2 separate regions of the Homo sapiens genome follow, and region 1 is linked to region 2. The links come from fine-mapping of genetic effects on gene expression. Tissue or cell type: gastroesophageal junction. Region 2 holds a variant in brackets; the other region holds the start of a gene. All regions are shown on one strand. Distances are between the middles of the regions.

Region 1 (2,621 bases), 27 kb after region 2:
CAGATGCTCCTTCCTCAAACGGAGGTTTCCGCAAGACAGGACTGGGTCTCTTTCCTTCTCAGCCCTGCCCTCAGAATTCCAGCCCCTAATCAACTTTTATGGAGATGCATGCCAGGCCAAAGGGCTGCCCCTAAGCTTTAGGAAGGAAACTCCTTAAATGCTGTTGACTTAGGAGTTCCGCCAGTGCCCCACCTGCCCAGAGCCTCTTGCCCCAGTGCCCCACCTGGGTTTATGGTGCCCCCCTCCCAGAAATATGAGCTCAGGGGTCAGAAACCCAGGTCCTGAGGTCCCTCCTCCCCAAGGACTCAGGATCCCAGGCCCCCAGTCCCCTCTTCCCTTAAGTTTAAGAAGTCCAGGCCACCACCCTCTTGGGGACCCAGCACCCAACTCACGAAGCGCCCGAAGCGGATGGAGTCTCCATCCTCAATGTGTAAGTCAGCCTGGGCCCCACTAAGGCGGGAGATGACAGACTGGCAGCCAGGGAGGAGGGAACGGAGCAGCCCCGAGCCTGTAATGTGGTCCGCGTGGCAGTGGGTATTCACTGGGAGAGAGAGGAGGGACAGGTCCGGAGGGTACAGAAAGGACCTGGGAGTCCCAGCCCAGATCCTTCTCCCTCAGACTCAGGAGTTCTGGGCCCCAGCTTCCCATTCCACTGACGCTGCAGCCCAGCCCCGCTGGGATCCATGAGTTTGGTCCCCGGACTGACCAGCATAGAGCAGCCGCAGCCCCAGCTCCTTGATCAGCTGGGCATCCCGAGGCGCTGTTTCCAGGACTGGGTCGATCAGAACGGCCTCCCGGGACTCTCTGTCACCCAGCAGGTACGTGAAGGTGCAGCTCACAGGCTCGAACATCTGGGAACGGGGGACCCAGGTGAGGGCGCAGAACCGGACTTCCACCCACTGGAGGCCAAGTAGTCCAGACTGACCCTATCCTCTTCCTAAGATCCAGAAGCAGAAACCCCAGCCCACTCTTTCCCCGGGAGTCGGGAGTCCGGAGCCCCACTACCTTCCCCTATCAGAACAAAAGAGTTCCAACTTCCTAACATCCCAAAATCAGGGTCCCCAGCACGTTCTTTCATAGAGGACCCAGGGGTCTGGCCCCAAGCCCAGAGGCCCCCAGACCACTCACCTTTAAAGGACCCAAGAGTCCAGCCCTAAACCTCCACCCCGCTTTCCGCAAGATGCAGGCGTGGGTCCCCCCGGATCTCTCCCTATTAAGAGACCCCGGAGTTCCGTCCTTGCTGCCGCCTAGTGCCCAGCAGTCCCCTCCTAGGTCCAGCCACCCGCACCTGCCGCAGGAGGATGGGGGCTCCAGACCCGCCGCGCTGGCTCAGCTGCCGCCGGGCGACCCTCAGTACAGCCTCCGCCATCGCGCCCACTGCGGGGTCAGGAATGAGCGGAGGCCGAGCGCCTGCAGGAGCCGGGCGCTACGGCACTGACCCCGGGAAGGGCGGGGCGGGGGCGGAGCACGCCTTAAAGGGGCCACGGACGCCTGGGGCAGAGGGCGGGGGACCGCCGAGCGGGACTGGGGCGAGGGCGAGACCGAGGAAAGCCAGAGTGCAATGCCTGGACGCTTTGAGACCCAGAAAAAACAGAGAACAGGGAGACACTCAAAGTGCGAGGGACAGACGCTCAGAGACACACAGACATACTCATGTAGGAACAGAGATAGGGAGAGAAGTAGAAACCCAGGGAGAGGCCCCAGTACACTCATAGCCTCGGGGCCGTTTTTTTTCCTTTTTCTTTTGTTTTATTTTGAGACAGAGTCTCGCTCTGTCACGCAGGCTTGAGTGCAGTGACTCGATCTCAGCTTACTACAGCCTTAAACTCCCGGGTTCAAGCGATCCTCCAACCTCAGCCTCCCGAGTAGCTGGGACTATGGCACGTTGCCACCACACCCGACATTTTATATATATATATTTATATCTATATATATATTTATATACATATATATATATACACACACACACACACATACATGTATATAAAATTTGTTTTTTGCAGAGACGGAGTTCTCACTATGTTGCCCAGGCTGATCTCGAACTCCTGAGCTCAAGCGTTCCTCCCACCTTGTCCTCCCAAAGTGCTGGGATTACAGACGTGAGCCACCGCGTCCCGTGGGGCCGTTTTCTAGCAGGTGGTAGGATAGTCATGGTTAGAAAAAGATGTTCGGTTCCGGGAGGCAGAGGTTGCAGTGAGTAGAGATGACGCCACTGCACTCCAGCCTGGGCGACAGAGGGAGACTCTGTCTCAAAAAAAAAAGATATTCGTTCGGTTCCAGGTCATTAATATCTTGAGGGACTTTTGAGTGGGTGCCTGGTTACCAGAACAACACTTGATCCCATTAAAGTTCATCCAGAAATTGCATAAGCATTTTATCAGGAATGTTTCTCTCTTTCCAGGAAGAAATCTTAAAAAAAAAAAAAAAGATAATTTTGCATTATCTCTTGAATAATCAGATTGGGGATTATTCATCTTCTGTTGGGGTGTGAACCTCTGAAAAGAGCTTGTGTTCATTTACACCAAGGACCTGGGGCTGAAAAACTGTAGTCTCAAGTCATGAGCTGTCAGAAAGTCTGCTCTTTGTAATCGTAGCAGTAGTGAGAATAGGACATCCCACTC
Region 2 (2,758 bases):
GAAGGAAAGGAGAAAAGACAGAAAAGAAAGAAAGAGAGAAAGAGGGAAGGAACGAAGGAAGGAGAGAGAGAAAGAAAAGAGGGAGGGAGGGAAGAGAAAGAAAAAGAAAGAAAAGGAAAGGAGGAGAAAGAGAAACAAAAAGGAAGGAAGGAAGGAATGATGGAAGGAAGGAAAGAAGAAAGAAAATTAATGAATGCAAAACATATTCATGTTATGTGATACGGTGGATGCAGAAGTGGATTGTGTCTGGGCCCTGTCCTCCAAGTGGGAACACAGCCAGTTGGAAAGATCAGGGCAGTAAAATCCAGAGACTGTGGGAACCCAGAATGAAGAACAATGTCAGCCAGAGGTTGAGGCTGCAGTGATTGCACTACTGCACTCCAGCCTGGGCGACAGTGAGACCCTGTCTCAAAATCAAAACAAAACAAAACAATCAGGGAGCATTTGGATCTGGGAAAATAAAAGGAGCTAGAAGAGCATTTTGGGCAGAGGAAGCGGCTTGGCACAAATGCATGAAAGTTGAAAAGTACAAGAAGTCTGGGGGACAAACTCCAGCCAGGGTGGAAGAGGATGTGGTGGTGGGAAGAACGTGGTGGGAGAGGACAGTGGGAAGGCCAGCTCGTCCAGCTCACGGGGGGTTTGGTCAACCTGGGGATATGGGGAGCCTCAGAAGGACTGAAAGGATGGGGTAGGAGCTAGGAATCATCCCTCTGGGAGATGGGTTACAGGGGTGGAGAGCAGCTGCCTCGGGAGTCCTCCAAGCAATGAGGGTGAGACCTAAGCTGGGGCCTGGGCGGTGGGGCTGAAAAATAGATGGACTAGACAGAGAGGATCAGGAAGCAGAAAGGATAGGACATGGTGGTTGACGGGCTTGGAGGTGAGAGACAGGGAAGTGTACAGGGCAAAGTCCAGGACTCTGGCCTGGTGACCAAAGGGACAGCAAGACAAACAGTGTGGAGAAGGGAGTTGCTGAGGTCAGCCAGACTCCTGGGTCAGAGGGAGGAGGGGCTGGGGCCTGGATTCCTGGATCTAAGGAAGGAGGATCTGGGGGTCTGGACTTCTGGGTTTGAGGGAGGAGGAGCTGGGGGTCTGGACTCCTGGGACAGAGGGAGAAGGGGCTGCGACCGAGATTTCTGGATCTGGGTGAGAAGGGAGTATGAAGTAGCCAGTACCCTAGGAAGAAGAGCACATTTCTGTCTCAGGAGAGAGGGCCTGGGAGAAATATGTGATCTTTGAGGATAAATGAGGGCCTAGGACCCAGCCTCATAAAATTCCAACATACACGACACTTGCAAAGAAAAAAACTGACAAAATCACAAGTCACCATTTTCCAACCTATAATGGTAACTGACCCAAGCAATGACCACTGATGGATGTTACAATCTTCAGATAAAAGATTCTTTTTTTTGAGATGGAGTTCTGCTCCCGTTGCCCAGGCTGGAGTGCAGTGGTGTGATCTTGGCTCCTGGGAGCTGCAACCTCCACCTCCCGGATTCAAGCAATTCTCCTGCCTCAGCCTCCCGAATAGCTGGGATTACTGGTGCCTGCCACCACGCCCAGCTAATTTTTTGTATTTTTAGTAGAGATGGGGTTTCATCATGTTGGCCAGGCTGGCCTCGAACTGCGGTGGCTCATA[C/T]CTGTAATCCCAGCACTTTGGGAGGCCAAGGCGGGCAGATCACCTGAGGTCAGGAGTTCGAGACCAGCCTGACCAGCATGGAGAAACCCCATCTCTACTGAAAATACAAAATTACCCGGGCATGGTGGTGCATGCCTGTAATCCCAGCTACTGGGGAGGCTAAGACAGGAGAATCGCTTGAACCTGGGAGGCAGAGGTTACGGTGAGCCAAGATCACGCCATTGCACTCCAGCCTGGGCAACAAGAGCGAAACTGTGTCTCGCAAAAAAAAAGAGACTAGGGTGATCTTATTAGGTCGGGACAACCAGAGATGAGGTTCCCAACACTGGCTCAGGAAGCACTAAAGCACTTCTGAATACGATCAAACCTCTCCCTCTAACCAACACCCACTTGCAGAAACAGAGGCATGTTCAAGGGCACCACAGGCATGCGATCAGCCATGCTCTGCCTATAGGACAGAAGACTGGATTTTTCCAATAAACAGTATGGGGAAGACACAGCGGGTAGGAACCACCAGAGATAAAACAATGGGCAAGACGTATCAGCCAATCACACTGAACTTTGGGGACTTCATTCAAACAAGCCACCTGTTAACTGGCATTTTGAGACTGTCTGGGAAACACAAAAACTAACCAGAAATAAGACAATACTAAGAACTTATTAATTTTTTATTTTTGAGACAGGGTCTTGCTCTATCGCCCAGGTTGGAGTGCAATGTTATAATCACAGCTCACTGCAGCCTCTACCTTCTGGGCTCAATTGATCCTCCCACCTCACTCTTCTGAGTCTGAGGCCACAGGCACATGCCACCATGCCTGGTTAATTTTTGTATTTTTATTTTTCACAGAAACGGTGTCTTATTATAATATTGCCAGGCTGGTCTCATAGTCTTGGCCTCAAGCGATCCTCCCACTTTGCCCCGCCCCCCGTACCCCCCCCCCACCCCGCAAGTACTGGGATTACAGGTGTGAGCCACTTGGCCCAGCCTAAAAGGATTTCTTATCTGTCAATGATACACTCTAAACATATGTACAGACCATATGATGTCTGGGATTGGCTTTTAAAACTGGGGACGAGAACAAATTGGAGATAATGAAACAAGAATGTAAGAATATTAATCAT

The links. PIP is the estimated chance that this variant, and not a neighbour inherited with it, causes the effect.
Region 1: ETHE1 starts here. The variant in region 2 is fine-mapped to the expression of ETHE1 in gastroesophageal junction (GTEx, PIP above 0.99). The same link has a PIP of 0.9 or more in breast, esophagus muscle, lung, nasal epithelium and skeletal muscle.

The regions. Positions count from the first base shown.
Region 1 is chr19:43,525,809-43,528,429 of GRCh38, forward strand. ETHE1 (ETHE1 persulfide dioxygenase) reads right to left here and starts at 1,393. Exons shown (of 7, transcript NM_014297.5): 1 at 1,289-1,393; 2 at 707-851; 3 at 393-541. The coding sequence starts at 1,369. RefSeq lists silencers at 1-4, 1,355-1,544 and enhancers at 39-544, 545-1,049, 565-744.
Region 2 is chr19:43,498,343-43,501,100 of GRCh38, forward strand. All of the region lies in intron 4 of PHLDB3 (pleckstrin homology like domain family B member 3), which reads right to left. Among named protein-coding and RNA genes, the nearest start is that of PHLDB3, 5.0 kb to the right of the region's middle. RefSeq lists an enhancer at 755-1,049. The variant C/T (reference allele first, on the strand shown) is at 1,637.